Regions from separate parts of the Homo sapiens genome. Here region 1 is linked to region 2. Evidence: fine-mapped expression QTL. A gene starts in region 2. The other region holds a variant in brackets. All regions are shown on one strand. Distances are between the middles of the regions.

Region 1 (5,376 bases), 21 kb before region 2:
TTTCTAAGTCTATACTGTTATATTCTGGATTTATCTTCATTGTTTTAAAAATCTACATAAAAGCTAGTTTATACACTAGCTGTATGTTGTATTATTCTTATTGGATACACTAGATTGTGAGACAGTCTGAGTGAATAGGATGTATCTTTTGGTTTATAAAAATTCATTTTCCTAAGCAATCTTTTCAAATATCCTTTATATAAAATGAAGACTGTCTGGGCTGCTTTTTAAAATAACATCCACTAGAGGTCGCACAGAGGTACTATTTTAGCCTAGAAAAATCTTTCAATGCGGAGAATAGATTCTATAAATTTGGGTTTTAAAATGATCTACTTATGGGAAATCCCGCTGTTTTTAAAATATATATCATGGCTAGAAGCCACATACCATTGGCCAGAACAGAGAATTAGCATCTAGAGAGGGTGCCACACTCTTCCAGCCCAGCCTCAGAGCCTAGAGGCCAGCCATTGGACATTTGCTTCTAATTCGGTTTGCAGTGACCCCTCCTTTATATATCTGATGACAGCCATGGCTTCTTTTCCTGGAAGACACAGTTTGTCACATACGTGCAGAATTCTGCATAAAACTTTTAGAGAATTGTGTGGTTCCTATAGCTGCTATTTTTAAAGATAAGTACATGTTAACCATTTTCTCCTCCCCTTTACTTCTCCTTTGCTACTTCACCTATTCTAATTAGGCATTTGTTCCCATGAGTCCAGGGAAACTGTTCTTTCCAAGATTGCAAATAGCCTTCTTTTTGAAGGTCAAATCCAATGATCCCTCCAACATACTCAACCTCTCTGTAACATCTGATGTAGTTGTTTCCTCCTTCTCTCTAAAAACACTTTCTTAGCTTGGCCTGTAGGTCACAATGCTCCAATTTCCTGGTTTTGCTCCTACCTCTTTAGCTATTCTTTCTCCATCTTCTTTGCTGGCTCTCCCTCCACCTAGCCTGTATAATTTAGAGGTCTCAGTCATGGGCTCTTTTCTCTACCTACCCTCACACCGTGGGATATCTAGCCCTATTGGGCTAATGACTCCAGCATTTTTTATTTCTACCCTATACTTTTCCCCTTAAATCCCAAAACCTACTTGATTCTCCACTTGGATGTCCAATAGGCCTCTCAACCTTAAGATGTCCAGAACCAAAATCTTATTCTCTATTCCCAGGCTTTTAAAAAACCCATAGGTCTTTCCCATATCATGAGATGGTACCACCAAACACCTAGAAGTCAAGTCCTCAAACTCCGTATCCAGTCTATCAGCCAATCCTTTTGAATTCAGTGTATATCCTAAATCCCCCACCAGCACCGTTGCCAAGCCCCTGCCACCTTTTGCAGGCCTGGCAATAGCATCCTATAACAGCCTCTGCTACTGCCCCTGCTACTGTTAATTCTCTGCACTGAAACCGGAGGGATCTTTTACAAACATAAATCGTTACATGTCACCTCCATGCTTAAAGTTGTCTGATGGCTTTTTATTATTCTGAGACTAGATTTCATGCTCCTATGGCCAGCTCACCTCTCTGATCTCATCTCCTATACTTTTCCACTCCACTTTAACCACACAGGCTTTCTTGACATTCTGGAATGTGCCAAATCCATTTTCACCCCTCAGGACATTTAAAGGTCACCCAGACATTCAGATATCTTCCTCTCTCTTCATTCAGGCTTCAACTGCATATGCCATCTTCTCAGAGAGGCCTTTCCACTCCACCAGGTCAAAACAGAAATTGTCCTCCAGGTCACCTTCTAATCCCTATACTGCTTTCTTCTTTCTCCTGTTTTCTATTGCTACCTGAAATTTTATGCAGACAGTCCCCAACTTATTGTGGTTCAACTTATGATTTTTCAATGTGATGGTGTGAAAGTGATACATGTCAGTAGGAACCCTACTTCAAATTTTGAATGCTGCTCTTTTCCTGGGCTAGCGATCTGCCTTATGATTCTCCTTTGCAATGCTGGGCAGTGGCCATGAGCCGCAGCTTCTAGTTAGCCATTCTAATGTAAGTGTTCTGAGCACATTTAAGGTAGGCTAGGCGAAGCTATGATGTTTGGCAGGTTAGGTGTATGAAATGCATTTACTACTTACAATTTTTTTTCAACTTATGATAGGTTTTTCAGGATGTAACTCCGTCGTAAGTCGAGGAGGATCCATATTTCTTTACATACTTCTTTATTGGCTATCTCTCCCACTAGAACACAAGCTATCTGAGGA[T/C]AGGGGCTTAATTTTGCTTACCCCAAATCCTCACAAAGCTGTATGATATTGATATTCTGATCCCCATCTTAGGATGAGTAAACTAAGATTCTGAGAGGTGTTTAACTTGCCCAAGGTTATGCATTAAGTAGCAGAACCAGATCCAAATTCAGATCTGACCCCCAATCCCATTGGCTTTCTACTCACTATGGTGTCTCTGGTGACACGTTATGGCTAAATGCAGTGGATACTGTTCTGCCTCTAGGTGGCTTGAGCTTTCTGCAACATTTCACATAGTCGATGGCTCTCTCCTTCAACCTTGTTCCTTTCTCAAATTCCATGATACTTAACTGTCCTGGTTCTCGCTCTACTTCTTTCTCATCCTCTGTTAAGCACTCTTTTTATTCACTACATTCTCCGAATCTTGATGTTTATCGGAGTGTTTCCCACAGTCTTGTAATCTTGTTCCATTAGCTTTCCTGGGATTTTCTCATACTTTTCACTACGGCCTCTCTAGGATGCCTCTGAAATGTGTCTCTGCAGGCTAAACTTCTTTTCCTGGATGTCCCATAAGTCATAAGATAACTCAGGCCCAACATGTCCAAAACAAAACTCACACCTCTGGGCTGGGCATGGTGGCTCACGCCTGTAATCCCAGCACTTTAGGAGGCTGAGACGGGCGTATCACGAGGTCAGGAGATCGAGACCATCCTGGCTAACATGGTGAAACCTCGTCTCTACTAAACATACAAAAAAAATTAGCCGGGCGTGGTGGCGGGTGCCTGTAGTGCCAGCTACTCGGGAGACTGAGGCAGGAGAATGGCGTGAACCCGGGAGGTGGAGCTTGCAGTGAGCCGAGATCCGCCATTGCACTCCGGCCTGGGCAACAGAGTGAGACTCCGTCTCAAAACAAACAAACAAACAAACAAAACAATTGACACCTCTCCCCGACTTGCTGCTTCCCCTATACCACCCATCTCAATGAATGGCATAGCCTATGGTCCAAATGCAAATCCAGAGAGCCATCCTCTATCTCCACACCAGACCACCATGTTCCACATCGAATTAGACTGTGAGGGGTACCTTAGTTTGGCTCAAGATCCCAAAATGTTGACCCATATGCCAGGTTCACCTTGCAGACATATTTATTTGCCCCGCAGTATATTTTTTAAATATCTGAACCAGTTGTCAATATTTTAAAATTAGAAATTTTATATACAAATCTAGATGTCTAGGTTTTCTTGAGCAGGGATGGAGCACGGAGGATAAAGGTTGATTTGACACCATCAAGGCACCATTTGTATTAACAACAGTGGCTGGGGTTGGGTTACAATGCCCCGTGCTGACCTGCCCACTCCACTGTTCAGCATCCTACACCAAGTTCCCCACTCCAGTGGGAAACATCACAAGCTATGTATGTTCACGTGCCCGCTGCAGGTTTTTTCTTCTCATCGTGAAATACAAAAAATTGTTTCTCTTGTATGATGCCTCCATCAAAAGTAGTAAAAAAGAGAAAGACTGGGAGAACCAATTATTTCTTACCCCTAGCCAGCTTTACTCATATTACCTGCCTGGCCTCTTCCTATGTATATTTGAATTTGTGACTTTGGATAAACGCTACATACTGTTTTGTAGATATTCCCAAGCCTGTCTAAATTCTAGGGACCCCAACATATATGCATGGATCTAAGCATATTTGTAGCTATGTATGAATTAGCTGGGTTTGTTTGAATTTTAAGACAATCAACTCCACATACTCTGACAACAAAGTAATTGATTGTTGAAGGTGAGATTTCAGTAAGAGTCCAGATTGGATTTTCCTTAACCATAGATAAAATACTGCAATACTGGGCTATTTATTGAACTTATTGAAGAGTCTATTAAGAGGGCGATCTGTCCTGGAAGTAAACAACTTAAATTATAGCACGTTTTATTTTTGAATGAGTTGACAGTGACAATTATGGAAGTACCCTGAAGCTGTGGGGTCATTTCTGTGCTTTTTCTCTTCTCCTTTGGCTGAATGAAATTGGTAAAAAATCAAAAGATTCAGAAATTGAGTTTTATGGATGTTGAATAGAATGAACATTATATTTCTTTTGGGATACCGTTGGTTGCATAGCTAGCGGGACACAGGAGAAATAGTTGTTCAGACTGGGGCTCTTATCTGAATGAACTGTGCTACTTGTTCTTGTGGTCATATTGTGACTATAGTTAATAAGGGCTGTGAAGACACTGAAATGGACAAGGTGTCTCACGTGGTTGTTACTTTGCACTCTATACTTGGGTCTAGGGAATGCCATCAGTGACAATAGAAATAATGGGCTAACAGGCCTCTTGTCCTCCCTTCTGTGGACTTTTGATTCCTTGTAGGCTCCTGATGTGTTGATACATGGGCTGAGTTAGAAGCACTGGATGCTGGGTTGAGAGGTAGGGATGTCTTTTTATATGATGATGTTGATGTTGGGAATTATGGTGATAATAATAGTAATAATGGTTATCATTTGCAGAGTTTCTTCTGCACGTGATAAATTTTTTGCAAATAATCTCTTTTAATTCTTGCAATAACCCAGTGAGATATATGCTCTTTTAATTCACATTTTGAAGAACTTGAAGCTGAGGCTCAGGGGGATGCAGTGACTTGTCCAATGTCACACTGATACTTGGATGCAGGTTTGTCAGAAGCTGATGTTGTTGCTATTAGCCATTGGGTTCTTCTATCTCTCTTTAAAACATAAGATTATGCCTTCGGAGAGGAACAGAGATTTGAAATTGATTTAGTAGCAAGTAGTGTTCTATTCAGTTAAAAAAAAGAAATGTTACTAGTTTTCTGTAGGTTCAGTTTCAGTTTAGCCTCCAGGTTCAAATTTGAGGTAAAAACAGGTTTCAGAGGCTTTCTGCATTCCTATCAGATAAGGGCAAAGAACCTGTGTCTACTTGAAAAGGTTAACCTCATCCTGAAAAAAAAAAAAAAAAAGGGAGTGTAGTTTTCTCATCAGATCTTTTAATCAGATAGAATGGAATTTGGGCAACTTATAGAACTTTCTGGATAAGGAAGAATTTAGCTAATGTCCATCATTCATGTATTCTCAGTGATTTCCTGAAGATTTTCCTTTCTTTACAACTTTTCAAAAAGAAAAATGTAGAATTGGCTGAGCTCAGTAGCTCATGCCTGTAATCCCA
Region 2 (5,328 bases):
TCATTTCTGATGCCTGTTGCCAGGACTATGCTTAATACATGTACAATATTTTCCACTGAAAGCTTAAGGGACATTTCAAGGTCATAGCAAGTCATTCACATAGCCAAGATCTCCGGATGTCTTCTCATTTTGTAGTGGGGAAAGAGATACCAACAGATAATTTCGGTGATACATTAAGGGCATACATTCATTCAACAAATATTCACTACTAGAAACCTGGTTCCGTGGTGGGTGTTCAGGATGGAATTATGAATGAAACAGTCATGATCTCTGGATGTCCCATGATGTTCTGAAAGGTGCAGCATGTGTGAGAGTGCACAGGAGGGCCATGTAAACTACCCTGGATATATGTTTGTGGGTATCCAGAAAGGCTTCCCAGAGAAAGAAACCAGCCTCCTAAATCTCTCTGAATCTATCCTCCTTTAATTTTCTTCCTCATCCTCACAGCTACTGTCTCAGTTCAGGCCCTCTTTATTTCACATCTGAATTACAGCAATAACTTTCCAACTGCACACCACCACACCCCTACTCTTACCCTATTTTTACCCAACTCACTCTTTACTAATGACAGAATGATTTTTTCTTAGAAACTTTTTTCTAAAGTATAATGTCCACCCATAAAAGTACATATGTAAGCATACAGTTTGATGAACTTCCATAACCAAACACACCCATTAACCAGAGCCTACATTAACAGTCAGCATTCCGCAGCCCCCCCGTGTCCCCATCCATATACTCACCCTCCTTATACGTAATAAAAATAAGAATTCATTTTAAAAATGAATATCGCTTCCTTCCTTTGTTAAAGCCTTCCAAGGACTTTCTCGACAGCCTGCAGGATAAACACCATCTCCTTCGCCAAACTATACCCTAGTAATTCCTCGCCTACTGCCCCAGTCTTCCCTCCCTGGCCTCTGCAGTGCTGCTCCCTCTGTGGCAACTAACACCTCAGCCCTCTTCCTCTGCATTGTAATGATTCCTAATTATTCCAGGAGCCACCTCCTCAAAGCCTTCCATGATCCCTTCCCTCCCCACTATCTGTTTCTCTCGTAGATTTTTGAAGGTAGAAACCGTGTTTTGCATTTGTTTCCCAATTTGTTAAATGAACAAGTGAGTAAATTTATTAATTTCCCATAACTCCTTTCCTCCCTTTCCTTCTCCTCTACCCTACCAATGGCTCTTTTAAAATAAGAACAATCCAGTCCCCTGTGAATGTTTGTGCATGTATGAGATGCACAATGATCACGTATGACCTTCAACCAGCAATTTGCGAAGTCACGACTGGTTTCCATTCATCCAGACACACCTTACTACCTAGTATCCCCTCCTCCCACATCAAATAAGGGTATAGTAGGGGCAGTTTGTGGTCTCAACCCTACCGAGGTAAGAGGGCACAAAGAAAATTGATATGCATGAGACCTCGGGCATTCTTCAGGTAAAAAGATGGCTTAATTGGAACATTCGGAGGCTTAAGAGAAAATCGGGAGTGGTGGAAGGAAGCAATCAAGCAGGGTAATATTTCCCAAATGCCTACCGGCCACGTGCCAGACACAATGTTAGGCTCTATCTGTGATGTCTTATTTAACTGAAGAGGGAGAAGAATGTGAATAAATGGCTGGATTCTTGAATTGCATAAAAAGAGAAGCCAATACACTTTTTCCTTTATTTCGTTTAAACAAGTAATTTGTGCATTTATAGCTTTTTCTTTTAATTAAAAGTAAGAGTGGAAAAAAGTCACTGAAATGTCTAATTTCAAATAAAATATTTGATTTCTAATTTCTGTTTTTCAAACAAACAAAAAACCCCAGAAGCATTATGAAAGGTTTTACTGTGCAGGAGGAAATGTTACTAGGTTGATGGGCCTAGCCAGAACACCTAACATCCTCCATCTAGTCTCCAAACTGAGGCTGTGGCCCTGCAGAGAGCGCCACCCGGAAGCCACTTTTATAGAAGCTTTTACACACAATGCTTGATTTTTTTTTTTTTTTTTCCGAGACGGAGTCTCGCTTTGTCGCCCAGGCTGGAGTGCAGTGGCGCGATCTGGGCTCACTGCAAGCTCCGCCTCCTGGGTTGACGCCATTCTCCTGCCTCAGCTTCCCGAGTAGCTGGGACTACAGGCGCCCGCCACCAAGCCTGGCTAATTTTTTTTTATTTTTAGTGGAGACAGAGTTTCACCGTGTTAGCCAGGATGGTCTCGATCTCCTGACCTCGGGATCCGCCCGCCTCGGCCTCCCAAAGTGCTGGGAGTATAGGCGTGAGCCACCGCGCCTGGCCTATACTTGATTTTTAATGAAAACATTCTTAAATTCATATGGCTAACGCAAATTTATTTTCTGTAGGCATAACATCAAAAACACCTGGCAGGATTGCCCCATTCCCAGCACTGTCTATTTCTCCCCTAGTATCAGTGGGACTCCACTGATGCACAGCTGTGATCTACTAAAACTTCTCTCAAAACTTTCTCCTCTCCTTAGGTCAGCAGCCCCGCCCCTGATCTATTTGGAAATCCCCTGAATAAAAGTTGAATATCATAAACCAAAGCGAACACCCAGAAATTCAAATTCAACCCGTAGGTAAAAAATTTCTCAAGTGACTGTAGACGTAGATGTCTCCAGTGTCGCCTAATAAGGTAGAAGAGGCCAGTGCGATACTGTCTTTACACCCTTAACTTGGGTGCTAGAATATTTATCTTCGTCATCATTTTATCATCCAAACTATTTTGCATAACTTTCATGGGTGCAGAAAATGTTTTTTAAGTGCTTGGTAAAATTAATAGTGATATTCATTCATTCATCTCACTGAACAGGCAATAAATTCCTTGACGACAAGGGCCTTGGGGGGGTCACATCTTCATCTTTGGTTTATGAGTCCTGTGCGTCTTGGTACAAGCAATACTACTATGAGCCGGCAAGTCAGACTTATTTGGTAGGGGACCAAAGGAAAGAACATGTTTTGATTGCTAAGAAAACATTTTGTTCTCTATCCTTTACTGGGCTGGCAGGCAAAGGAAATGTTCTTATGAGCACTCACATTGAAAACTTAAGTTCTTCACCAAATGCAGAGACTCTGAAGGCCACGCCGCTGCGGGCTGCCTCCACAATTCGACCGTCTCGGCGGGCCACGAGATCCTGGCCACGGATGCGGTGGCCGCGCCTCTGCTCGCACGTTCCCCCGGCCTCTGGACTCCCTCCCTCCCTCAATCCCTCCCTCCGGCGGGCGTCGCTGGCGGGTGGCTAGGCCCAACGGCAGGAAGCCGACGCTATCCTCCGTTCCGCGGCGCCGGGTCCGCCTTCCGTCTGTTCTAGGGCCTGCTCCTGCGCGGCAGCTGCTTTAGAAGGTCTCGAGCCTCCTGTACCTTCCCAGGGATGAACCGGGCCTTCCCTCTGGAAGGCGAGGGTTCGGGCCACAGTGAGCGAGGGCCAGGGCGGTGGGCGCGCGCAGAGGGAAACCGGATCAGTTGAGAGAGAATCAAGAGTAGCGGATGAGGCGCTTGTGGGGCGCGGCCCGGAAGCCCTCGGGCGCGGGCTGGGAGAAGGAGTGGGCGGAGGCGCCGCAGGAGGCTCCCGGGGCCTGGTCGGGCCGGCTGGGCCCCGGGCGCAGTGGAAGAAAGGGACGGGCGGTGCCCGGTTGGGCGTCCTGGCCAGCTCACCTTGCCCTGGCGGCTCGCCCCGCCCGGCACTTGGGAGGAGCAGGGCAGGGCCCGCGGCCTTTGCATTCTGGGACCGCCCCCTTCCATTCCCGGGCCAGCGGCGAGCGGCAGCGACGGCTGGAGCCGCAGCTACAGCATGAGAGCCGGTGCCGCTCCTCCACGCCTGCGGACGCGTGGCGAGCGGAGGCAGCGCTGCCTGTTCGCGCCATGGGGGCACCGTGGGGCTCGCCGACGGCGGCGGCGGGCGGGCGGCGCGGGTGGCGCCGAGGCCGGGGGCTGCCATGGACCGTCTGTGTGCTGGCGGCCGCCGGCTTGACGTGTACGGCGCTGATCACCTACGCTTGCTGGGGGCAGCTGCCGCCGCTGCCCTGGGCGTCGCCAACCCCGTCGCGACCGGTGGGCGTGCTGCTGTGGTGGGAGCCCTTCGGGGGGCGCGATAGCGCCCCGAGGCCGCCCCCTGACTGCCGGCTGCGCTTCAACATCAGCGGCTGCCGCCTGCTCACCGACCGCGCGTCCTACGGAGAGGCTCAGGCCGTGCTTTTCCACCACCGCGACCTCGTGAAGGGGCCCCCCGACTGGCCCCCGCCCTGGGGCATCCAGGCGCACACTGCCGAGGAGGTGGATCTGCGCGTGTTGGACTACGAGGAGGCAGCGGCGGCGGCAGAAGCCCTGGCGACCTCCAGCCCCAGGCCCCCGGGCCAGCGCTGGGTTTGGATGAACTTCGAGTCGCCCTCGCACTCCCCGGGGCTGCGAAGCCTGGCAAGTAACCTCTTCAACTGGACGCTCTCCTACCGGGCGGACTCGGACGTCTTTGTGCCTTATGGCTACCTCTACCCCAGAAGCCACCCCGGCGACCCGCCCTCAGGCCTGGCCCCGCCACTGTCCAGGAAACAGGGGCTGGTGGCATGGGTGGTGAGCCACTGGGACGAGCGCCAGGCCCGGGTCCGCTACTACCACCAACTGAGCCAACATGTGACCGTGGACGTGTTCGGCCGGGGCGGGCCGGGGCAGCCGGTGCCCGAAATTGGGCTCCTGCACACAGTGGCCCGCTACAAGTTCTACCTGGCTTTCGAGAACTCGCAGCACCTGGATTATATCACCGAGAAGCTCTGGCGCAACGCGTTGCTCGCTGGGGCGGTGCCGGTGGTGCTGGGCCCAGACCGTGCCAACTACGAGCGCTTTGTGCCCCGCGGCGCCTTCATCCACGTGGACGACTTCCCAAGTGCCTCCTCCCTGGCCTCGTACCTGCTTTTCCTCGACCGCAACCCCGCGGTCTATCGCCGCTACTTCCACTGGCGCCGGAGCTACGCTGTCCACATCACCTCCTTCTGGGACGAGCCTTGGTGCCGGGTGTGCCAGGCTGTACAGAGGGCTGGGGACCGGCCCAAGAGCATACGGAACTTGGCCAGCTGGTTCGAGCGGTGAAGCCGCGCTCCCCTGGAAGCGACCCAGGGGAGGCCAAGTTGTCAGCTTTTTGATCCTCTACTGTGCATCTCCTTGACTGCCGCATCATGGGAGTAAGTTCTTCAAACACCCATTTTTGCTCTATGGGAAAAAAACGATTTACCAATTAATATTACTCAGCACAGAGATGGGGGCCCGGTTTCCATATTTTTTGCACAGCTAGCAATTGGGCTCCCTTTGCTGCTGATGGGCATCATTGTTTAGGGGTGAAGGAG

Alleles and levels. Positions count from the first base shown, and alleles are read on the strand shown. Sizes are in standard deviations (SD) of each study's normalised expression.
For the expression in tibial nerve of the gene that starts at base 3,269 in region 2, C is the high allele of the variant in region 1 and T is the other (moderate effect, 0.53 SD a copy in GTEx).

What was found. PIP is the estimated chance that this variant, and not a neighbour inherited with it, causes the effect. A credible set is the group of variants that fine-mapping cannot tell apart.
Region 1: its variant is the best candidate, but not a certain one, in a credible set for the expression of FUT4 in tibial nerve (GTEx, PIP 0.56).

The regions. Positions count from the first base shown.
Region 1 is chr11:94,519,434-94,524,809 of GRCh38, forward strand. The region is part of intron 2 of C11orf97 (chromosome 11 open reading frame 97); the gene reads left to right. Among named protein-coding and RNA genes, the nearest start is that of C11orf97, 9.7 kb to the left of the region's middle. The variant T/C (reference allele first, on the strand shown) is at 2,218.
Region 2 is chr11:94,540,653-94,545,980 of GRCh38, forward strand. It overlaps FUT4 (fucosyltransferase 4), which reads left to right and starts at 3,269. Exons shown (of 1, transcript NM_002033.4): 1 at 3,269-5,328. The coding sequence starts at 3,482. The coding sequence ends at 5,074. PIWIL4-AS1 (PIWIL4 antisense RNA 1) reads right to left here. Exons shown (of 5, transcript NR_135093.1): 5 at 4,680-5,194. RefSeq lists a silencer at 3,457-4,026 and an enhancer at 4,846-5,328.